Regions from separate parts of the Homo sapiens genome. Here all the other regions are linked to region 1. The links come from fine-mapping of genetic effects on gene expression. A gene starts in region 1. Each other region holds a variant in brackets. All regions are shown on one strand. Distances are from middle to middle.

Region 1 (8,191 bases):
GGTAGTTACACAAGTTGGTGAATATCCTAAGGACCATCGACTTGTATACTTTAAATGATTGAATTAATGGTATGTGAATTCTATCTCAATAAAGCTGTTATCAAAAAAGAATTAAAATGAGAGGCCCTTGGCACCTTGAACTTCTATGGACAGGAAGCAGACTGAGGAAACTACTTGGCAAACATGGGCTACATTTTATGGAAAAGGAAAGAAATTCAAGAGGATGGAATCAAGAGCCCAAACGGGAACCAAAAGCTAATCCCAGGCAGTACATGTGGGCTGGGTGCAGTGGCTCACTCCTGTAATCCCAGCACTTTGGGAGGCTGAGGCGGGTGGATCACCTGAGGTCAGGAGTTCAAGACCAGCCTGGCCAACATGGCGAAAGCTTGTCTCTACTAAAAATACAAAAATTAGCCAGGCATGGCGGCACGTTTCTGTAATCTCAGCTACTCGGGAGGCTGAGGCAGGAGAATTGCTTGAACCAGGAGGCGGAGGTTGCAGTGAGCGGAGATTGTGCCACTGCCCTCCAGTCTGGGTGAAAGAGCGAGACTCCATCTCAAAAACAACAAACAAGAAACAAAAATAATGACAACCTTGTGCCTCATTTGATTTCAGAATTGCTATGAACCGGTGGCTACTTTGTTCCTCTGATTTTTCCCTTTTTTTTTTTTTTTTTTTTGAATGGGACTAACTATTGCCTGCCCTTTGTTTTACCTATGTTGTATTCTAGGTATGTGTGGACAGATAACTTGTCTCTTTAGTTGATAGGTCTTCAGGTCAGGATGAACTGCACTCAAGCTGAACTCAAGGAACTGCCTCAGAGGAGCTTCATCTACCTTTGTACCTAACTTTGATGATAAGATCTTTGAACCTGAGGTTCTAAATAGATGAAACTTTTGGGGAAAGGGGCTTTCCAGGAAGAGTGCCTCTGTTTTGCATATGGGAGGAATGTAAACAGCTCATGGCTACAGGGTGGATTGTGGTGGGTTTTAAAACATGTCCACAAATTTTTGGTCACTTGCCTTCAAGAGGCAGAGTCTAATTTGTCTTCCTTTGAATATGAGCTCGTTTCTGTCACTTGGTTCTAATGAATAAAATGTGGTAGAGGTGATTCTGTATGACTTCTGAAGCAAGGTCATGAAAGTAATACAGCTTCCACTCCACTTTCTCTCTTGGGATGCTCAACCTTCAAACCAAGCCACCATGTTGGGAGGGAGTCCAAGCTACATTGGAGAGGCTACATGTAGAGGCTGACCACCCTGAGGCCCTAGCCAACAAGAAGTATCTACCACCAGATGTGGATTAGTGAACCTTTAGATGGTTTCTGCTGCAGACTTTGAGCTGCTATAGCTGTCACTAAGAGAACTATAGGCAAGCCCTGCCCAGATTAAGATTTGTCAATAAAGGCCAGGTGTGGTGGCTCACACCTGTAATCCCAGCACTTTGAGAGGCCGAGGCAGGCGGATCACGAGGTCAGGAGATCAAGACCATCCTGGCTAGCACAGTGAAACCCTGTCTCCTAAAAATACAAAAAATTAGCTGGGTGTGGTGGTGGGTGCCTGTAGTCCCAGCTACTTGGGAGGCTGAGGCAGGAGAATGGCATGAACCTGGGAGGCAGAGTTTGCAGTGAGCTGAGATCACACCACTGCACTCCAGCCTGGGCGACAGAGTGAGACTCTGTCTCAAAAAAAAAAAAAAGATTTGTCAATAAAATAAATGTTTTAGGCCATTAAGATGTGTGGTGGTTTGTTTCCCAGTGATAGATAACTGGAATAGACAGTATGAATAGGATTGATTATATATTGGAAGTAAGGGAGAAGAAAGACTCAAGAATGTTAACCAGGTTTTCTAGGTTCAGCAGATTAACAGAAAGCAGTGTCAGATTGTATTGGTTTGTTTACCTACTTAAAGCAGTAACAAATTTCCAGGGTTTGGACAGTGTCATCTGGGATGCTAGCCACCCGATATTTACTTAAGAGGTGGTGATTGTCATGGATTTTTTTTTTTTAAACAAAGCCTTGTGATCAGTTTGTTTTGATAGTAACAGCTTTATTATTCTTAGGAAACAAATAATATCAAAGTAAAGAAGACGAAGCATAGGTTTGGAAGAGGGAAGGCAAACAGCAGTGATTAAGAAGCTGAAAAATTATCTTTCTAGCAACTGAAAGTCACTATTAGCATCTCTTGATTTACTGTTATGATATTGATATTCATTATAATCCCTTTAAAAATTTAATGATCCTTTTTTAGAATTCTGGCACTTGATTTTACTCTCTTACTGGAAGAGGTCTTGTCTCTAATAGCATTCTCTCAGTGAGGCCTTTCCTGGTCATCCTATTTAAAATTGTAAACTTCTCATTTCCCACACTCCCTATTTCTCTTTTCTGCTTAGATTTTCCCCCTTGGCATCAAATCACCATCTAACATAATAGATTTACTTATCTGATTGCTTTTCTTCCCCTACTAGAATGGAATTTCCTTGAGAACAGAAATTTTTATCTTTTTCATTCACTCCTGCAACAGTGTTGACTATGTAGTAGGTGGTCAGTAAATATTTGTTGAATAAATAAATAAAGTGATTTCTGAATGCCAAAGGAAGGATTGATTTCTGTTCAGATCACTTTCAGTGCAGAATGTATTTTATAATGTTCAAGTTTTTGGAAACCCACATCTAAGTGTGTCACATACATGTGTAATCCTAATGCCTCTAAGACTCATCCTATCTGGGTGCTAGTGGGCTTGTGATAATAATCAAATGTTACTGGCCACAACTCCCCTCCCTCTCCTTTTTGTCACCGTTTAAATCTTTTATTTGGAAATTTTTAAACATATGCAAAAATAACAAGACTAATATAATGAATGCTGATATGGTTTGGATTTGTGTTCCCTCCAAAATCTCATGTTCAATTATAATCCCCAGTGTTGGAGACTGGGCCTGGTGGGAGGTGATTAGATCCTGGGGGTGGAGTTCTCATGAATGCATTAGCATCCTCTCAGTGCTGTTTTCCTGCTAGTGAGTGAGTGAGTTATCCTGAGATCTAGTTGTTTATGTGTGTAGCACCTCCTTCCTATCTTCCTCCAGCTCTGGCCATGTGAAGTGCTGGCTCTCCCTTTGCCTTCCACCATTATTGTAGGCTTCCTTAGGGCTCCCCAGAAGCTGAGCAGATGCCAGCACCATGCTTCCTGTATAGCCTGCAGAACTGTGAGCCAATTAACCCTCTTTTCTTTATAAATTACCTAGTCTCAGGTATTTATAGCAGTGCGAGAATGGACAAATACAAACCCCTATGTGTCTATTACTCAGCATTAATAATTATCAACATTTTGTCAATCTTGTTTGATCAGTTTCTTCCACCCACTTTCCCCCCTAGATTATTTTTAAAAAAACTCAAGATATCATTTTATTTCACTTGAAAATTTCAGTATGCATTTCTGAATGTTAAGCACATTTAAAATAAATACTACCACCATACCATTTTCACATGTAACAGAATTAATTTCTCTCATCTAATAGCCGATGAACAAATTTCCCTGAGATGTTTGTATTCAACTGAGGATTCAAATACAGTCCAGACATTGCATTTAGCTGTTATTTGCCCTAAGTTTCACTTACATCGTAACAGTTTTCCCTCCTTTTTATTAATGTCTTTCATTTGTTGGTGAAACCTTGTGACATTGGACCAGGGACCAGTCCTGTAGAATCTTCCATGTTATAGATTTGACTGTTTCCCTATAATGAACTTAACTTATTCTCTAGTTCTGTTTTTTTGTAAATGGTAGTTAGATCTTGAAGCCATGATTAGATTCAGATTTAATTTTTGGACAGGAACATTTCATAGGTGGTGCTGCTGTGTACTTTTTAATTCATTACTTCATAAGGCTTATAATGTGATTGTCTCAATTTTATTGATGCTAAAATGATTAGTGGGTTATTAACCTGATCACTTGATTATAAAGTTCCTCATCAACCTTTCATCTAATACTTTCAGTCTCCAATTATGATTTTTGCATAGCTCCATTATTTTATTAGAATTTGCAAAAATTGTGATTATTCTAGTTATTTTGTCTTTCTCATTTATTAGTTTCAATTCTTGTGAATAAGAACTTTATTAACTATTAAGTTATATTTAAGTGCAGTTTGTACTGGAAAAGCAGAATAAATGCTTATATTTTTTCCTTTATCAATTTTCAGACTGAGTTGGTGCGCTAGTAATTCCCAGGGTGAGTAATGTTTCTTTTTAAAAAATGCCATTATGAACTCAGATTTTAATGTGTTTTGATATGTTTCAGTCTATTCTAGATTATTTCTTTCTGATCCTTAATATTTTCCATCTTAGACTAGTGGGAGCTCCTAGAAGTTCACTTCTGTGTCCTCATTAATCTCTGATAGCTTTAATATCGCAGGCATAAGCTATTTTAGGCTTACATTATACATTTCCTGCCCCAAACCTGGACCATCTACTTTCCTTTCGTATCTTTCACATAGGAAAATAATCTAATGCTTCCCCCCTTCAACATGGTGGATCTCAGAATGTTCTTGTTTCTATGACACACCAATTCTGTAATTAGAGGTTCTAAAGCTGTATAATAAAGAACTCTAATGGTTACCTTGTTTTCTACTTCTTTTCCAAGATCATGACTGAGAGATTGTTAATAAAAGCATTGAGTGGTGGTAAAAATACGAAGATCATTACTTTGAATGGGAAGAAGATGACAAAGATGCCCTCAGCATTAGGAAAACTGCCTGGCCTGAAGACTCTAGTCCTTCAGAATAACCTAATCCCCAAAGTGTGTCCAGAGTTATGCAACTTGACCCAGGTGAGGAACAGTGTTTTGCTGTTGTGGTTTGGTATTGAAGATGGAAAACAGGAAGAGAGAAAAAAGGGGTAAGAGACAGAACAATAACACTTCGATCTATGGAGACTTAGGTATCTGGAGACTTAATGTGGAGTGTTGCTGGAGAGGCATCAGAAGGCTTTCTCCCTTAGGGAATTCCATGTGGTAGGGAGAGATGTTTCAATTTATTCATGTGCTCTTTGGCCCACATCTGGAGTCAGGGGACTAGGTCTCTGCCACACTCATCTTTTTAGAGGCTGTCATCTGGAAAGGGGTTGGAAACCTGGATCTGGTCGTCTATCTTGGGGGCTTACATCTGGAAGTAGTTTTGAGGATCCAGGAGATGCTGTTCACCCTGGGGACTGTCCTGAAGCTTTTGCATTTAGAATGAAGAGACATTTAGGATGCAGCAAGGGAGTTCCTTTTCAATTTCCTAGGGCAGGCTGAAACTTTGAAATGGAGTGTTGGCAGGGAATAGGAAGGAGGGGACATTTATTTCTCCTGAAATAGTCTTTAAAGGAAGTTTAATATTTTAAATAAAAAATATTCTTTTTTAAAGAGGAATAGTTGACATGAATGAATCCCATATGCTTGTGTTAAACCTTTCTGCCTAACAATGTGAAACTCTAGCTGCCAAAAATCTTGAGGTTGAGAGAAGGCAAGGGATATTAACTTTGTAATTTTCTTTTTGTTCACTGCTGAATTGTCATCAGCACAGGAAGAACCTAGAAGCAGCTAAGGCGTTATAGCTCATTAATTTTGAATTTACAGTTCCAAAAAATAAATCTGTATTTTCTTACTTTCACCCTACCTCATTTCCTTTTACGTTTAAGAAATTGAGTTTGTAATCTGTAGTTGTATCTTTATAAGAAATAGGGTAACTTTTACAAAGTCCCCCTTCATTAGTAATTGCAGAAGGTATACTTGTAGTTACAAGACAACAAGGACTTGGAATTTTTTAATAGGAAAGAGGAGTTTCTTTGCAAAAGAATTTGGGACTTGACTGAGTCATGAACCTATTCTCTCCCTCTATTTGAATTTATTTCCATTAAAGTAGTACTAACCATTGGTTACCGAGAATTAAATATTACAAAAAGCTTATAGCAAGAAGCTATCTTCTATCCCACTTCCCCTCATCCTCAATCCCGATCTCCATATATAACCACTTTTAACTCATCTATTTTATTGATTTGTCTATTTTTGGCATCATTTTTCTTCATCTTCTAGATACAGTTATATTAATGTATCTATTGTGTATTGATCCACATCTGGAATCAGGGGATTAGGTCTACAGGTATCTTTTACATGTAATGTTACTACACCTTTATTTCTTCCTTCATCAACTGCAGTCTCTTTTGACTCCCCACTTCGTAAGATGACAGTGTCAGCCTTTGTAATCCACCTTCAGCTGTCCTTTCCTCTCCCCCCTCACAAACTCTGAAGTTTTTACTTTTATAACACTTACAGCTTTTATATCCTATTCAGTTATAACCATAATTAAATATTTGTTTTGTGTCTTGGGTAACTCTAAACTTCTAAAAATATATATTACTAATAAATAAATATTCACATGGAGTCAATTAATCTATGATTATATTTTCTTTCTTATATGCCATTTTTGTTCCCTTGGAGTTTCTAATAACCTTTCCTTTGTTCTTGTGCCTTAGTTTTATGGTAGCCTCATTTTATTTCAAACTGTATAATTTTTTTCTGTCAAATGTACTTTTCCTTGAGAGACTTCCCTCTAAGACCCTCCATCCTCTGCCCCACTCTATGTTGACTGCTATCTAGGTTTGCTAGATACTGTCAGCCAAGGACATTCCCTTTGTTGCTCTCTTAAATTGGACCCACTGTTTCCTGTATCCTGTATTTTCCTTTCTTGGCTTGCTCTCTTAGTTTTTCAGGAGTCTCGAGAAATCATCCTAGTCTGGGTATGTGGTAGTTAAATTGTTTGATCCCTTGCATATCTGAAAATTTCTGTATTCTTGTCTCACACTTGGTTAATAGTTGTTTAGTAAAAAGTTACACATTCCAAGATATATTTCCATAGGAAAAAGCCCCAAGAGTCTGATTATCATTACATTGTCTTCTTCTTGTGGCTCCCTTTGTTACTTGCCCTCTCATTCTTCTATTTAGGGGTAACCTACGTGTTGACTTCTGTTTGTTCACTCTTAGTTCCTTCACCAGGGAGCTGTCTCAGCCCAGTGCTTACTTTTAAAGAAGAAATTACACCACTAAGAATTCAACTGATTTGCAACTAGGCTGCTTATAGTCTATTCTGTCTTTAAAGTACTTTAAAAGTCAGATTCAGGCCAATGGTATTATGTTTAGCTGTTCATGAACTAGTAGTTTTTCTTATATAGGGTCTTGGAGAAATTGTGGAATTTTGGAAAAAAAAACACAATTTTCCCTATGTAATGGGAGTTCTAGAAGCATGCTAGATAAAATGTGCTAGAAACCCTCAAAGAATGGTTGTAGATTATCATAGAGTTCAGATATACAGCTCCATCCGTCTCACAGTTGGTAGTAAAGGGCAGATGGCCCGGTGCAGTGGCTCACACCTGTAATCCCAGCAGTATGGGAGGCCAAGGTGGGCAGATTGATTGGGCTCAGTAGTTTGAAACTGGCCTGGGCAACATAGTGAGACCTCATCTCTACAAAAAAATAAAAATTAGCCAGGCACAGTGGCACGTGCCTCTGGTCCCAGAGGATTGCCTGAGCCCGGAATGTGGGAGGTTGCAGTGAGCTGAGATTGCACCACTGCACTCCAGCCTGGGCTGCAGAGTGATTCTGTCTCAAAAAAAAAAAAAAAAAAGGAAAGGCAGATGAAGGTTTCAAAGAAAGAGACAGCTTAGAGAATTGAAAAGGAGAGTTTAGAAGTGCTGGCACAACTTAACTGGTTCAGCAGTTACCAGCTATATACAAGGCACTTAGTTTCTTTGGGCCTCAATTTCTGCCTTCATTTATTTAATCCACAAATAAGCAATGAGGACCATCTGTGTCTCAGGCACTCAGAACTGGTGATTCAGTGATGAGCAAAACAGGTGGAAATCTCTGCCCTCATAGAGTTTATGTTTTAGTCAGGAATGATGTAAGAAACAAATAAGCAAAATAGGGCGTGAGGCGGTGATTAGTGTTAAGGGGAAAAATAAAGCAGAGAGAAGGGGCAGGGTGTATTGTGACATTCAGCTGACCTGACTGATGCCACAGAGTGTCTCTTGTGGGCTTTATAACTTGGTGATGTGTATGTCAAAATTCAGTGATTATAATTCTTATTCTAACAGTTTTCTCTAAAATTCCCGTGTACTTTTAAAGTTAATTTGAACTCTTTCTTATGTGGCTATAGTCATACCGT
Region 2 (8,191 bases), 430 kb before region 1:
GAGAAAAATCAAATGGGATCACTGACATACTCAATTTTAGCTTAAGTTAAAAAGAAAAGGTGATAAAATTATATTTTTGTTTAAGTACCTAGGTATCTACTATGATTTTAGAATGCCACATGGTGGTTATCAATTCATTAGACAGAGGCTTGAAATGTATTTGTATACATATGTAGATGCATATAATTTTAATGAATTATCTTTTTGCCATTAAATTCTATGTATAGCTTATCTCAGCAGTATTGGTTTTTGGTAATATATTGTTTGATAAATCTTTGGAAAAGTTATCATGAAATCCATTGTTGTTCTATTCAAGCAGCCAGAAAGCACTTTATTTTAAGCATGATTCAGGTGGTAGAAAGAATAAAATCAGTTTTGTGTTGGTGTTGCTGCTTTTTCACTCTGAAAAAGATTTTTGTTGCGTTAAAGCCATTTTGCTTCTCGAAGTGAATCTTCTTTCCTATATTTTCAGTAAGGTTTCTTATGGGCATTTTCAAATAAAATATATAAGTGGAGACATATTAAACCAGTAATATTGCTTTCCAGGTGTTCAGTTTCAACTTCAAAACACAAAGAAAAATGTCAAATAGGACTTAGAATAAAGTTGCACTAGGTTTTTAAGACTTACAACATTCACTTATGGAACTACTCATATTTTAAGACAAATATAAAAATGTTCCCCCTGGTGAAATGTTTTCTATTATATGATACATAGTTAAATCAATGAGAAATAAGAGCAAGAATAGACAAATACTAAAGAGAAGCTTCATTGTGCAAATATCCGCAGAAAAACCTTGAAAAACATACCTCCCAGTTGTAAATATTACAGCTGAGTTTACACAAAATGTCTATTAAAGCCAGTGGGAGTCATGCATTCATACATTTCTGGCTAGTATAGGAGTTTTTAATAATCACTAAAGCCTTATATAAAGGTCTGTGTGATTCCTTGTCTTAATTATTTTAAGTAGCAGTTCCTGTTTCAAGGTCCAACTTTTCTGCTGATTCAATGTTTTGAAACATCAATTTCTGAAAATAAGGGGATAATCACTATTTCAGTTGTAAATTAGTAGGTATCACATTTGCTTTTGTAAACTTGATTTGCAATTGTTGTTTAAGCATTTACCTATTAGCATAACAACAGATAACCTCATATTATGTTTTGGTAATGACTATGTAGACATTTTATCTGTGAGAGGGCTAATGCCTGTCATGAATCAACCCACTAGTAACTTGTGCTTAATTTAAATCTGGTTTTAGCCTAATGGTTTGCTTATCTCACTTTGAGGGGCTGTTAAAGATCAAAAATAATTTAGAATTTTAAAAATTTGTATTACTTTTCAGAAATAGAAAAATCATGTTATAAAGAATCAACTAAAGCAGTTTGAACACAACAGATTTGATGAAGGCCATCTATGTTTGCTGCCTCCATAACTTGCCTTCCTTAACCTATTTATCTGCAGATGCTGTAGAAGAACCTCTTCTGCAAGACCATTCATTCATGCCTTGAGACAGTATGAATCAAGCTGACTTTTTTTTTTTCCAAGGAGTTTTTAAGTAAGTAAATGAATATACCAGTCAGGAGATGAAAGAGAAGTCCAGCCTAAAGATGCAAATATAGAAGATACCAGTATTTTAGTAGTTGGTAAAACCAAGGCAGTGTGTGAGATCATCTAGGAAAAAGATTATCTATCAGTTTTCTAAAGCCCATGCCTTTTTTGAATAAACAGAACACCTTTTCCCCCACCCCATTATCATTGAGAATCTTAGCCTCAACATCCACCTAGTTCCAGCTTTGTTTTTGTGTTCTACATTATAAAACCAACATTTTTGGCTTCATTTTCAAATTACTATAATATTTAACATGCCTTTTCAGACTATATATGTGACACCCCGATGAATAAGAAGAGCAGCCAGCTGAGAAGGGGAACTCTACAAAGCTATTTTTTCAACAGCTGTGACTGACCCACTCACCTCACAGGGTGGGTAAGAGCAGCAAACCATATAGATCTCTACTTATATGAAAACCATGTAGGTAGAGATCTTTGAGACTCAGTATATAAATGCCAGAATTTACACGACACTCTTGCTAAAAACAGATAATATCCATTTCTAAGAATGTGTGCAAAGGGAAATTTTTATGTTAGCACTTGCTTTTGGAAAGTCTAGCATGGTATATTACAGCGATTAGTAGTTCTATTCATTGTAAAATTTCAACCACATAGCTGCAAAGTAACTCACGGTAGATATATTTTATTACCAGCATTCAAACCATTCTCCTCTCTCTTAATATTTAATAGTTCTCTAATTCTAAATTTAGCAAGTCAAGTGGAGCAGCTCATGAACAGTGTAGGTGGTAGTATGGGTATCCTTTATTCAGCGTGGGCAGTCTTGGCTTCACTGTCAAGATTTTGTTGAACTCCATGGATTGGTTTACAAATATGTAATTGCTCTGTATATTATGCTGTTTACAGTGAATGTCAAGGCCTTTACTGACACCAATATCAGTAAAATATATTCTACAAAAAAAACAGCATTTTTTACTTTTAAATCAATAGTTCATGTGTACATTATTTAGAAATTTGAGGGAGATTGGGTTACTGTTTAATGTGTTTTGTCAGAGTGCTAAGAGTATTTCTAAACTCGCCTTAACTAAGTCTCCTCCCCTGATACCTCTGAGAGGTGTATTCTCATAAAGCAAATGATTCAAGGGAGAAAGTAACTAAGCAACAACAGTTAAAAAAAAAAACTTTATTAGTTAGGAATTTAGCTTCAAGCCACTACAAAGCTCTAGTAAGCTTGGCTGAGTACATGAAAGGCTTCTTTTTCCTGAGCTTATTAGGCCTGAATAGCCTCAAGCTAAGGCAGGCTCTTAGGATGCTCTCTCTTCATTTCTTTTCCTTTTCTTAGACTCCAGTGGGCACTAATGGAAATGGAGAGAAAGACAAACAAGATGACCCTGTTAGCTCCCTGTGTACTGCAGATGTGGTGTAGGCTGTGCTCCGAACTTAGAGAGAAGAAGGAAGAGAGGACAACCCCTCTATCCCCAAATTCTCTTCCAACCCTGTTCTGCCAGCCATCTGATTGGAAGCAAGAGGGAAGGGAGGCCTGTGGTGACCTCTCTCTTGACAACAGGGGAAAACCTGACCCTAGAAAAATCAGCTCAATCAATATCATGTGATCTTATCAAAGCAAGCAACCCTACTCCCTAAACTGGTGGAAACGGTGTGAATGTCAACTAGAGTTCTATACTTTAAAAACAACAAAAATATTGCAAATTTTGAGTATCCTTCCTAAAGAAAACAACATATTGTAATCTTGTTTTCTGTTAGATAAATCTCTGTTAAAAAGAAGCTTTGTTGGAACTCTCAAGTCTCTAAAAAATAAATCAGCCATCTTTTGATTGCTTAGGGACCCATGAAAAAGTCTGAGCACACACGCATTCTTTACGATGAGTCTCTGGCACTAAACCAGAGCCCTAGTGAGTGAGGCTGAGTCATGGCATTCCGCAAAGTCTCCTTTTGTGCCGCTGGCCTAAAGCCTAGATGAAAAGAAAGCAAAGAGGCTCCTTTGATTCCACTGCCCTAGGCCTACGCCCTAATTGTTGCTTTCAGAGTCTTGTAACTTCAGCAGTAAGAAGGGGGAAAGTCAAGTTTAAGAAAGAAAAGTGCCAAGGGTAAAAGATCAGTTCTCCTTCATAACGTAAAACTGATCTTACCTGTGTTACCCAGTCATGAGCCATTGGTGTGCATGTGTGAGTGTGTGTGTTGGGGGAAAAGGGAGCATTTTAATATGAAAACTATGTGAAAAGACACACTCTATAAGAGACAAAGAACAGCAAATCCCACAGAATGCTAAAGGTGCCAAAGGTAGAGCTGTTTACTTGTCTGCGAATCTCTTGGAAACCTTCAGCCAACAGCTGACTGGCTCAGCTTCCAAATTGTATCTTCCTTTGGCTCTCTGGCCTTCTCCCACTGAGATACTCATCATGTTGTATTATTCTTCAACAGCCATCATTTTCCTAGACTGGAAGCTACCCGAGGGCCAAAACATGTCTGTCTTGTTCTCCAGCACTTATTAGGCACTCAATAGATTTTGTTTTTCCTGTTGAATGGCATTTAATCATACACTTGACTGTAACCTTTATTCAGAACACTATTGGGGAAGGTATTTAGGGGAGGGCTTCATCATGTCTCCTAAAGCACAGAGTCTTTAACCAAGATTAACTCTGGAAGTATTATCATTTAAATAACTGATTATGTTAGGAAAATTAAACTCATAATTACACACACACACACATTTTAATTTGTTAGCCTCTCAGACTAGGTTTTATGAGTCTGTAGCCCAATGAACCATCCTTTTTTTGTATGCTCACTTGTAATTTCATTATGAAAATTTTTGTTTCAGCTAGACTGTAAACCACGAGAGTACAGAAGACTGTGTCTTGTTTACTGCTGGATTCCTTGGGCCCAACACCTGGCCTAACATATATTAGATATTCAATAGCCATTCACTGGATAAATGAATGAAACACTCAGCAATCCCTTTTTGCAGACAAATCAGTAATCTCTTTTTGTCACTTTGCTCATTTGATTACCTCCAGGTTTTCATTCAAAGACCATTAGAGGTCTAATGTGTATGCTAACTATTGTAGTTGCTGCAGCTATTCATGATCAGTTATGTTTATGCTTCAGTAATTCTTATATTTCATTAGAAAGAGAAGGAAAAATAAATTGTTACATTACTATTTCAGAAATTAATTTTAGAAGATATCTGAAACTCAACTCCAAAGTACATACCTCTAACTTTTTGATATTATAAAATGGTGCATACATCTCTATCTGCAATATATAATACATCTATATAATTCTGGACAGTATAATACAGTTTTTACTGCATGAAAATTTATCAATAAAGTTACATATAAGTAAAATTTTAAACTATAGGCCAAATTTATTTTTGTATTTACACATGGTCACAAATAACCCTTGGTGCACAATGGTATTTCTATTCTAGATAATCCCCACAGTTCCACT[T/A]ATGTAAAGTACCTTACAAAAAGTTCTTTTCAGTATTTAATCTAGACATAGATATCAAAAATGATTCTTCATTTTTTGAATTACTGAATTTTCAACAGATTATACCTTATGTTTAATCAAAAAAGATGAATAGGACTGGAAAAGTCAATTATAAAAGCAGTTGCTGCTTGCTAGTCTTACACAAATTTTTATATTTCTTTAAAGTGGAAATTTGAGACAGCAGAAGATAGTGATAAATTCTTACATATGATGCGTGTGCTTTTTTTTAAAAAAACAAATTTATGTATCATTTTTATGTTAGATGCCTTTTAATTTACATTGTCAAATTATAAGGCCCTCAGTATTAAAAGGAATCCAGAAAGATGTTCGTTCTGAGAAAAAAAAATGGTAATTTAAATACCGTATTGCTATTTAATCCAGGAAAGTTCAACTTTGCTCAATTCATAAACATTTAAACATAATTTATTTCCATAATAGGAACAGCTATGCAGAGGAGGAATGACAAGTAGAAGAGGGGAAAAGGGAAAATATAAACAAAAAAAACAGTACATTTCACACAAAAGCAGAGGAACAGAAAGTGAAATCTGAGACGTGAGTAAAGTACTCTTGTTACACCATGTTAACCACTTAGGCTGTAAGATTCAGCATGTGACACAATTTTCTGAGGCTTTTGAAGTAGTAATACTAATTAGACGATTAAGTATAGTACTATTAACCTTGACCCTGGAAGCTCCAGGAGCTTTCATTAATTATTTATTCATGGAGCTCAGACTATACTACTCTGGAGGTACAGAGATGACTATTTGCCTTCAAGGGATATACAGCCAATTAGAGAAGACAGACAAGTAATCAGAGGATGCTAATATAGTTTAATATGTACTATAATACTGGAAATGCTATTTTGTGGCAAAACATGCTAAGAAAAGAGTCCAAAAACTCTTTTTCAGGATTTCATGTGTTGGATGTTAAAATGCCATTTTACAGCTATTTTTTTAAAACTGGCATTAGTTGCACTTAAAATAAGCATTTCATAGCAATAATATTCAATATTATTTTATAGTTCCCTATATAATAAATGAATACTATTTTAGTCACATATTATTTCAAGTCAGTGTGCAACTTTTTCCCACAGTTAATATGGGACCAGCTTATTTCATAATTGATATATCAGAGCAAATTCAGCAGAGTGGGAAGGAATGAATTTGACATTCAATTCCTTGCTTCAGAATATAGTAAAATGATAGCTCCTTTGAAGTTGCCCCCAACTTTTTCTGAGTTTGGGGTTCTGTGAATATATTTGGTTCTGGAAGAGTTACAACAGTGTTGCTGGAGGGTACTATAGCACTAAATACCATTTTGATACCTTTGTTTATATGGGTGATCATAGTGATAGCTTTTGATATAAAATCAGGTAAAGCTCTGGATACTTCAAAGGAATCACTCCACCATTTAAATTAGTATTTCCACTGAACAAGGATCTGTGCAAAGGCTACTCCAAGTAGTGTCATGTGGAGGATGCAATAAACAGAGGTGCTATTGCCTAATTTGTTTCAGTAAGTATACATTAGGATTAACCACTCAAAAACACTAATCACAGTTTGGGCAAACATCCTCTCCCTCCTCTGAAGAAGTCTAAGACTGAACTTAAAGGTAATTCTACCAGAACTCTGAAGACAGTGTTGTGTAAAATATTCCCAGTGAAAATAAATTAGTGGAGAAAAAAATCTTAAAGAGAGGGCAAACTGTATGCAGCAGAAATTAGCAAGAGCAGAGATACATTAGAAGGAACGGAGCTACAGCAGGAAGGGTTGGTGAAGAGATTAGCCTGAGACCAAAAGAAACTGAAAGGTGAAGAACTGGGGATTTTAGAAATGCATTGATAGCCAATTTGGCTTGATTTCAGTCACATATTTGATTTCTTCATTCTTACTCTTAGGAGTATGCCTAAGAACATGCTGCACTGTCTCTACTCCTTCACCCACACCATCTCAAGCGAGGTGGAACCAATGATATATGTAGTAAATTTGATTAGAGTAAAAGTATCCTTGGCTGAGCTTCAGCCATCGTTCCTTTCAGGAGCATCATTTCTTGTGGAGAGCATATGTTCTCCTTCTCCTCCAAGGACAAGCTCTTTCTCCCATATAAGAAGACTCGTTTGGGTCCAATGCTGCCTTGAACTTGGTTAAATCTGCTGTATTCTGAGATTTGACATTATCAAATTCCTGTGGCTAACAGACATAAAGCTATATTCTCCAATCTGGCCTCTATTATTAATAAAAATGTTACGTTAGTTTCTGTCTGTTATTCTTTTGTTTCTCAATGAGATCAGTATTGGGTGGGAGAAAGGACTGTTATCTCATGTGCCAATTAATCATTTACTCATCAAGTATAGCATGCATTATGTGAGTGTGGCAGACTGCTAGTGGGCCCCCCAAATCTGCCCTTCCATTCTTAATCAGACATGGATATCCAGCTAGAGACCATATTTCCCATTCTCTTTGCACAAAATGTGACCATAGAGCTAAATATCACCATGGAAAGTGATCAGAAGCAATGAGTGCAACTTCTACCTCACTTGCTTCAAAGGAAGTTACTTTCTCTTGTCTTCCTGTGGACTAGACCTTAGGAAAAGCTTCAAGCTAATTTGACTATTCAGAGGAGGACTGAGTCCCAGGGGTTAATAGAGCAGCATTGTGGAGGGAATCTGAGTTGCTGGATGTCCTTGGAGAGTAGACTTGGCCCACTATGCTACCTTGCCCTATTACATAAAAGTGAAATAAACATTTGTCTCATTTCCATTGTGTATTTGGGGATCTTTCTTAAAGAAGCTTAGCGTTTACCCTAATACCCAGGATCAAGTTGATTTGGCCTTAAATAATCACTGTTATAAGATGCAGAGAGGTAGATTGAATTTATCATACGAATGTCTTTAGCTACAAATTAGCCCTATGGGGTATAGCTACTATACTTCTTAGAGAAATGAGTGGCATGATTTTAATATAAATAATATGACAACTATTAGTATATTATTAATACATCCCAAGAATGGTATGTGAGACAAGAAGCTCCCTGGTTGTGCTTATATCTGTAAGAAAGGTAACTTAAGTAAACATAGGCTTGCTCTAATTCTGTTTACTTGAACCAGTTAATTTTCAGTT
Region 3 (8,191 bases), 130 kb after region 1:
AAGTCTGCTGGTCCTTAGAGACTGCAGCCACCCCTCCCGAGGAGCTCAGGCCCAGGGAGATCTGAATTCTGTCCCTGAGCCTCTGGCTGGAGTTATTGGAGATCCTGCAGGGAAGCCCTACCCACTGAAGGATGGGTCAGGGTTAGACCTGAAGAGGCACTCTGGCCACCGACTGACACAGCCAATGCGTTGGGCTGTGGGGACAAGAATTGGGACCAAGCCATCCAGCCTCCCTGGCCCCAGCAGGGGAAAAAGCGCAGCCTGGAGCTATAGAAATGGGTGCCGCCTTTCCCTTGCCTAGGGAGCTTTGCGTGTTAGGCAGTTGTGAGTCCCAGTGCTGGCTGCTGCCTCTTCCCCAAGGAGCTCAAATGGCTTAGACAGCAGGCAGTGGCAGCAGGTGCTGGTTGCTCCTCCTTCTGGGAGTTCATTAGGCTTGAACAGATTCCAGCTGAGAGGCTATAAGAATCTGCGAGTTCTGGGGTTGGGATGCTAGATCCCAGTGGCATGGGTTTGCAAGTGGGATCTTCTGATCTGTGGGTTGCACAGTTCCGTGGAAAAAGCACAGTTTCCCCAGCTGAGTAGCATGCTCACTCACTGCCTCCCTTCTCTGGTGGGAGGGGATTGCCCTTCCCTGTGTGGCTATCAGGTGGGCTGCTGCAGCACACTGCTCTTCCTTCTCTCGTGGGTCTTGCCAGCCTTCTAGTCAATTTTGATGAGGGAACCTGGATACCTTGGTTGCCGGTGAAGGATTCACATGCTTATTATGATTTTTTTTTTTTTTTTTTGATGGGAGCTTCTGAACAATGCTGCTTCTAGTAAGCCATCTTGGCCCTGCCCCCTAGAAAAGTGTTTTTTTTTTTTTTTTTTTTTTTTTTTTTTTTACCATTTTAACCCCATGATCTCAGCTACAATGTATTTGCTGTCTTGGTTGTGGGGAGAAAATTTTATCCATCCATCTATCTCAGGTGACACAAAAGAAAATGTTGGCTCCCTAACTTCTCCTTTCTACTCCTGTCCTTGTCAGATTCCAAGGTACTGCAACCTGGTTTCTGTTCCTCCATGTCATGGCAACTGGCATTTCAGAGGTCATCAGTGACTTACTCCCAGTCCAGCTGCTCCTCCTCTGGCTGGTACTCCATGGAAGGTTGGGCTTAATTGGCTGTCTCCTGCCTCTTGGAACTACATCCCTGAGGTCCATTCCTTTTCCCCATCCCTTTAACAGAATCCTCTTCTGTATTTCTCTCAAAACCATGTGTTGCAGAGGATTCTCTACTCAGTCTCATTTTCTTCTCTTTGAGTGCTTTTTCTTTATCAAATGAATCTCTACTCTCACCAGTTTCATTTAGCTTCATTTACCACACCTCGGTGGGTAGTATCTAAATCTGTTTCTCCATTTTAACCTATGTTTCCAAGCTTCTCAATTTCAAGACATCTAAAATAGAACCTCAAATGACTTCCAGACATTTATTTTCTAACAGTGGTAGTCCTGAAAATAACCTAGACAACAAGGAACATGCAAAGAGGTATTTTCTGAAGAAAAACTAATGAGAGTTTCTAATGTTATTTTGGAGATTTTAGAAGCTTTATTAAATGAAAAAATGGAGTCCAGCTTCATTTAAAATTTTCTCAGTAATCTCCACTAATAAATACGTTAAGGATGAAAACAATGGTTTTTAACATGAAAGTCTTAAAAAAGCTAATATATAATAATGGCTTCTTATGATTACCTCTTCTTCACAAATTGTTCTTTTCCCATTTATTCACTTATTAGATAAATATTAATGAGGAGCTACTATCTACCAGGCACTGTTCTAATGATATGGCATGAACAAAACTGGCAGGGCCCTTGCTTTCATGAAACTTACTTGCTAATGTAGGGAGACAAACAATAAACAATGGGCTAACAATATAATGATAAGTACTTTGGTGAAGTAAAAGGGGATCCAGAAGATAGAGAATTATGGGAATACTTTTTATGGAGGGCCTGAATCAGACAAGGTAGTATTTGATCAGAGATCTGAAGCAAGTGAATGAGTGAGTCCTATGGATATAATGGATAGGAACCAGTTGAATATTTGAAAAGCTGAAAGCTTAGGCTAAATGTGTGCTAAAAAAATTCATGACTCTGATGTCAGGAAATTTACTGTTACTGGTTGCATGGTCATATATCAAGTGTTACCATAGTAACCAGATTCTGGAAGAATGCATCTGCTTCTGCCCTGTGGGGTCAACTAATGTTCTGAATCACTGATTAATTAAATTAGAAACTTAATCAATCTCACTCCACATATACATGTATGTGTATGTGTTTGAGAATGTGGTTATCTTGTCAATCTGTAATCCATCTGAAACTCTCTTTTTGGGATCTGGAACTGCAAAATATTTTCTAACAATTACAACCAACTTTCTTTTATTCTGATGAAGTTAAAGCAACTGGAGAAATAACTTCTTGTGAATTATCTAGCTTCAATTTTTCTCCTGTTTTGTCTCTTCTGTGGCTGGCCTTTGGAATTTTTGTTTTTCACTCACATTTGCCTCAGAGAATAAAAAAGAGAAACTCAAGTTTCTTTCACTGTTTGTTATAAACTCTTAACATCTATGTTGTGGGGGAGTAGTTTCAAACAGAAGAATATATATTATTTTAGGATTATTAATGAATTCTATTTATGTCCTCAGTTATTAAGAGTAATTCAAATGTGGTCTCTGATTCTTTATATTTGTGTATCTTATTTGTAAATGCAATCCAAATTGATTTTCTCCATTTAATTACTCAATATTACGAACAACTTTTCACAATGGTATTAGTTGGATTCAGTGGATAAAGAGTTGCTACATCTAGCTAAAGTATTGATATTATTTTTCTATAATCAAAGCAATAAACCATTATGTATATTAGCTATTTTAGGACTTTTATGTTAAAAAGCATTGTTTTCTTTCTTAACATATTTATTAATGGAGATTACCAAGAAAGTTTTTAATGAAGCTGGACTTAATTTTTTTATTTTGAAGCTTCTTACATCTCCAGAATAACATTTGAAACTCTCGTTGGTATTTCTTCATAAAATATCTCTGCATGTTCCTTCTTGTCTAAGTTATTTTCTAGACTGCAGCTATTAGAAAATAAGTGGCTGGAAGTCACTTGCTCTTGCTAAAGAACTGTTTTCCCTCGTGGCCTTGAGAATGTCCCTAGGCAGCTTAAGATGCAAATTTACTGCTGGTACTTTGGGAGCCTTCTGTAGGCCACAAGGCTCCAAATGGCATGAAGCCTCCTGATCTGAAGTCCAAAAGGGATCTGGAGACTCATAGAGCAGCCATGGCACACCAGAATTAAAGAAGGGACTTTTAAAAGGTCCTTGTCTCATTAGAGTCAGTGCCCTGAGGGGCCAGAGAAATCACCTGAGGTGATGGGAGACATGTGCCTTGTTTCTAGATGCATGGTTGGAGTGAGTGAAGATGGTTAATACGACAGCACGGTAGTAAACATAGGTGTTGGCGAGTGAGGAAATGAGCTATGAAAACTAAAAGAGCAAGCCTGCTTTAGAAGGTGGGATGCGGAAGGCAAAGGATATATAATCATAGATTCAGGCCATCCACGGGCAGCTGAGAGTTCTGACACATTCAAAGGTAAGTGTTTGGGCCTTAAGAAGTGAGATGGGGCTTATTAATATCACTGCAGACTAAAGGTGAGCAAGCTGGTCAGCATTAAGCCTGGATCATGAGTTTCAGGCAGACAGCCTGGGGCAGGGGCTGCATGGGCCAGGAGCTTCACAACGGCCACTTTATGGGAAGTTACTGGCTTTTATTCTTGTAAGTAATTTGATACATATTTGGAGAGAGAGGAAGAAAGTGAGTGTATTGGAAAGTAGGGAAGCTGGATCACGGCCATCACTCCCCTAGTAAAATTAGAAAAAGCCTCCAGTCACTTTAATTATAACTAAAGCCTGTGATTTCTTTCTGGTGTGACTGAAGAAACCAGGGGTTTCTTGTGGTTTATTATTTTATCTTTCCAAATAGAGGACAAAAAAGTGCGTTTAAAATGTTTTAAAACCGACCAATTAAAATGCCTCATTCAAGTAACATTGGTTTGAAAAAGAAAGTACTACTTCAAAGAATAAAATATCCATATCTCACCAAAAGATTTTCATTTTATGTTTCTAAGTGCTCATCCAACAAATATTTATTGCTACTTCTCATAAGGAAGACATTATCCAAACTTAGGAGTGGACGGACAAAGCCTCAGAGAGCTTTTTTCTGTCCTTAGCACAATGACCAGAAAGGGATTCCTTTAAAATGTCAGACCAAGCTCTTCCCTGCTCGAATCCTGCCAGTCTCTCTCTCCATATGTTATTTCCTCTGTCTGGATCACTGTTCCCTCAGATGTTCTGGCTCATTTCCCCACAACCTTTAGGAAGTCCCTCCCTGGCCACCCTATTTAAA[G/A]TTATGATGCCAACCCCAACATGCACAAAGGCCTTTCCCTTATCTTTCTCCCTCATCACCTTCTATTTCACTCTACTGTTTACTTACTCATTTATTTATTGTCTGTCTTGCTCCACTATAGTGTAAATTCCATGAGGGCAGGGCATGAATTTTTCCCTCTAACATTTTATTATGAAAATTCTCAAACATAAAGAAAAGTTGGAAGAACTTTGCAATGAACACCCATATACTCATCACCTAGATTCTAAAATTAACATTTACTATATTTGCCTTATTAAATATCTATTTATTCCTCTATTCAGTCATCAGTCTATCTTATTTTTTATGCATTTTGACGTAAGTTGTAAACATCAGTATATTTCCCTTCTAGCATTTCAGTGTGCATATCACTAACTAGAGTTAAATACTTATCTTTTTATCTTTTTTACATGAACATTCTTATACACAAATTTACAAGACTTTGGCAAATACATTCCCAAACCTTTATAAAGATATGGAGCATTGCCACCACCCCAAAAAATGTTCTCATGTCCCTTCCCTGTAAGGTTGCTGGATTTTACAAATAAAAATATAGAATGCCCTGGTAAATATGAATGTTAGCAAACAATGGATACCCGTTTATATAGTAATGTCATAAACATTGCACAGGGCACATTTGTACTAAAAAATTCGTTTATCTGAAATTCAAAATTAATCTGGCAACGCTGCTTTCTGGTAAATTCCATGCTGCCCCTTCACCCCCGGCAAACAACCATTTTTCTGATATTTTTTTCCACCATAGATTTTTGCCTGTTGTAGAACTTCCTATAAAAGGAATCATACAATATGTATTCTTTTCTGCAAGGCTTTTTTTTCACTTAGTATAATGGTTTCAAGATTCATCCATATTGTTGCATATATCACGAGTGTGTTCCTTTTTGTTACTGAATAGTATTCCATAACGTAACTGTAATACACTTTGCTCATCCATTCTCCAATTTGGGCTTGTCCAATTTTTGTTTAATATGAGTAAGCTGCTATGAACCAAAGCATACATAGAAACATTGGTTAGCTGCCAGTTATGTTCTAGACAAAGTCCAAACTCCTTGACATCTCTCACAGGCACTTTGTGGTTTAGCTTTTCTTACCTCTTCTCTGGTCTCACCTCTTGCCACTCTTTCCTTAGGCTCACTTTCCTCCCAACTGTCTTCCTTTCAGTGCTCTGAAGCTCCCATGCTATTCCCACCTGGGGACTTTCTCTATGCAATTCCCTCTAATCGGAAAACAGTTTCTCCCAGATGGTTCCTGGCACATTTTGGTCCTATTCCTGTATTTACCACAGTGGGACCAGAAGCAAGTTTTCTCACTTCTCAGGACCTCTATCAGTGACCTCTCTACCTGTAACATAAAAAATAGTCCCTTTTCAGGGGGTTACTATAAAGATTAAATGAATCAATTTATGAAAAGCACATAGCCTAGCATCACAGTATGTGTTCAGTCAATGTTTGTAATAGATGTCATGGAGGACCTTGAATTTCTAGAAGCTTATGCTTTATGTATACTGAATACTACGGAACAGGGAATGGCTAAAAGTGATGGCAACAACACGGAAGATGAATTAAGAGGGTATAATCAAGCAAGGAGGAAAAAGACCAAATTGAATTTATAAGACTAGTCTGCATGAGTACACTAAATGACAGTTGAGTTTATGGCAGGGGGAACTGACCATGAGATAGATTTAGAAGACCTTTATTTTAGAGAGAGAATCAACTTACTATGCATCAAAGAGCAAAGTGGGTGGAGACATGAATAGCTGGAAACTTTCCATCTTATCTGGGTTTTATCTGGGTATTTATAAGAATGTGGGTGCCAAGTAGCAAGGTAAGAGATTTGGAAAGGGGGCCTGGATATGGTAGAAAAGGATGAGTTTGATTTTATGATAGACGTGGGAAATTAAGGATGCTAACTGGACATTAGTGGAAATGCTCAGCAGGCCATTGGAAAGAAAAATATAAGCAAAGGCATGGATTCTGATGAGGAATGAATTATATCCTTATATCATCAGATGACTATGATTTCATTGCTGTTCTACAAATTTAAGTCCTGTTTTAGACTAGTCTTATATGGAGTTTTAACAAGTGAACAATTAACTTATTTCCTTAGATGTTGTAGTCTCAGATAGCAAAAATACAGGGACATGTACAGAAGGCTCTTGTAATGGCGAGAAGGCCAAAATCACACACGGGGAGCCTGTTGCAAAGTCAGAAGGCACACTCTTGGAAAGGGACCACTTAATAAGGTCTGGCTGTGTCAGCGATGAAATACTTTTCTTTTCCTTTCTTTCCTTTTCTTTTCTTTTTTCTTTTTCTTTTCTTTTCTTTTCTTTTTCTGTTTCTTCTGAAGGATTAAGAGTCTGACACTTTGAATCACTGTGTTTCAACTTGCAGCTTCTGGTGGATTATTTTAAATTCTAAAACTGTAAGAAAAAAAATGGAGCCAGTAGGTTTGGTTTCTGATCTCCAGGCAGGAGGCAAATACTGTATGACATAGGGAACTCTGTGTGTATGTGTGTATGTGTGTGTATGTGTGTGTGTGCACATGTGAGCATTGTCTTTTTTCCCTGTTTTGTTTCTTTACCACGGCTAGGCAGGAACTGGAGGTCAGAGAATTATCTGACATTACTACAATGGCTTTTCCTTTGATATAATAACAACTTCATAGTCATAGTGATGGGTCTTTGTGTCATTTTTTAGAATAGTAGGTATATGAAATCTTCATCTATTATTTTGTATAATTTTGTTAGTGTGTAATATAACAAAGACTACCTAAGATTTTCAAGCTCACAAGTTCTTTTAGGACCAGAATGACTAATTAAGAAAAACAAAATGAATCTGAAATTAAGTTTTTCCTGAATGTATTTTTAAAGTACATATGCAATAAATAAAGGACTACTTTCCTGATAGAAATTTTCATGGAACTCAAGTCTTTCAATGTAAGCATTTTCAGATTTATTTCTAATCAAATACATTTATTTCTAACCAAAATATGCTATTTTTATTTCCCATAATATAGGGTCTGTATTATGAATGAGAATTCTAATACACTATGTTTTTAGAGCAATATTTAGAGAAACTCAGAGAATCTGTGATGAAAAGATATCAAGTATTTTACTGCTGATTCCACACTTCACTTTCCATGAAAGGGATACTTTATTGTTAAAAACAAAAAAAGTCCTTTTCCACTGCAACATACTACGTTCCTTACAATATTAAGTATATTCCCTTTTATATTTTACCAGTAGATTTTCCAGGGCATGTGCCCCATAACCAGTGTTTTGGGTTGAACATGTCTTGCTGAATTTCAGAGGCATCTAAAAAAATCACATTGGTTTGATTTGGGGAAATCAGAGTGCCAGAATGCTTGAATAGGTGGCAAGGAGTGGGGAGACTTAGTGATGATGTTTTCAGACATCATAAATTGGCCTATGTCATGGAGTTAGTGTTTGTTGACAGAACATCCACAAGGCTCAAAGCATTGTATAAAAGAATCAGGCACTGCCTATGCCTAACAGGCTTGTAATACACCTCTATGAAGCTTCAATCTAAACAAAATGTTGCTTTTACTGGGGGAAAAGCATTTAGAGAATACAGATGATTGAATGAGTTGATCTCTTGGGGCTCCTGTGATTCCAAGAAAGGCTATGCATTTGTGAAAGCTGGTGATTACTGACAAATTAAGACTTGACAATTCTAGCTAAGAATGTGCTTAATGTTCA

Alleles and levels. Alleles are on the strand shown, and positions count from the first base shown. SD is a standard deviation of normalised expression in the study named.
For the expression in putamen of the gene that starts at base 4,593 in region 1, A is the low allele of the variant in region 2 and T is the other (moderate effect, 0.64 SD a copy in GTEx).
For the expression in gastroesophageal junction of the gene that starts at base 4,593 in region 1, allele G in region 3 goes with a higher level than allele A (small effect, 0.34 SD a copy in GTEx).

The links. PIP is the estimated chance that this variant, and not a neighbour inherited with it, causes the effect.
Region 2: its variant is the best candidate, but not a certain one, in a credible set for the expression of LRRC69 in putamen (GTEx, PIP 0.77).
Region 3: its variant is the best candidate, but not a certain one, in a credible set for the expression of LRRC69 in gastroesophageal junction (GTEx, PIP 0.65).

Annotation. Positions count from the first base shown.
Region 1 is chr8:91,098,027-91,106,217 of GRCh38, forward strand. LRRC69 (leucine rich repeat containing 69) reads left to right here and starts at 4,593. Exons shown (of 8, transcript NM_001129890.2): 1 at 4,593-4,818. The coding sequence starts at 4,636.
Region 2 is chr8:90,667,580-90,675,770 of GRCh38, forward strand. No RefSeq gene overlaps it. Among named protein-coding and RNA genes, the nearest start is that of TMEM64, 26 kb to the left of the region's middle. The variant T/A (reference allele first, on the strand shown) is at 5,034.
Region 3 is chr8:91,224,795-91,232,985 of GRCh38, forward strand. It overlaps a transcript of SLC26A7 not described here. Among named protein-coding and RNA genes, the nearest start is that of SLC26A7, 20 kb to the right of the region's middle. The variant G/A (reference allele first, on the strand shown) is at 4,438.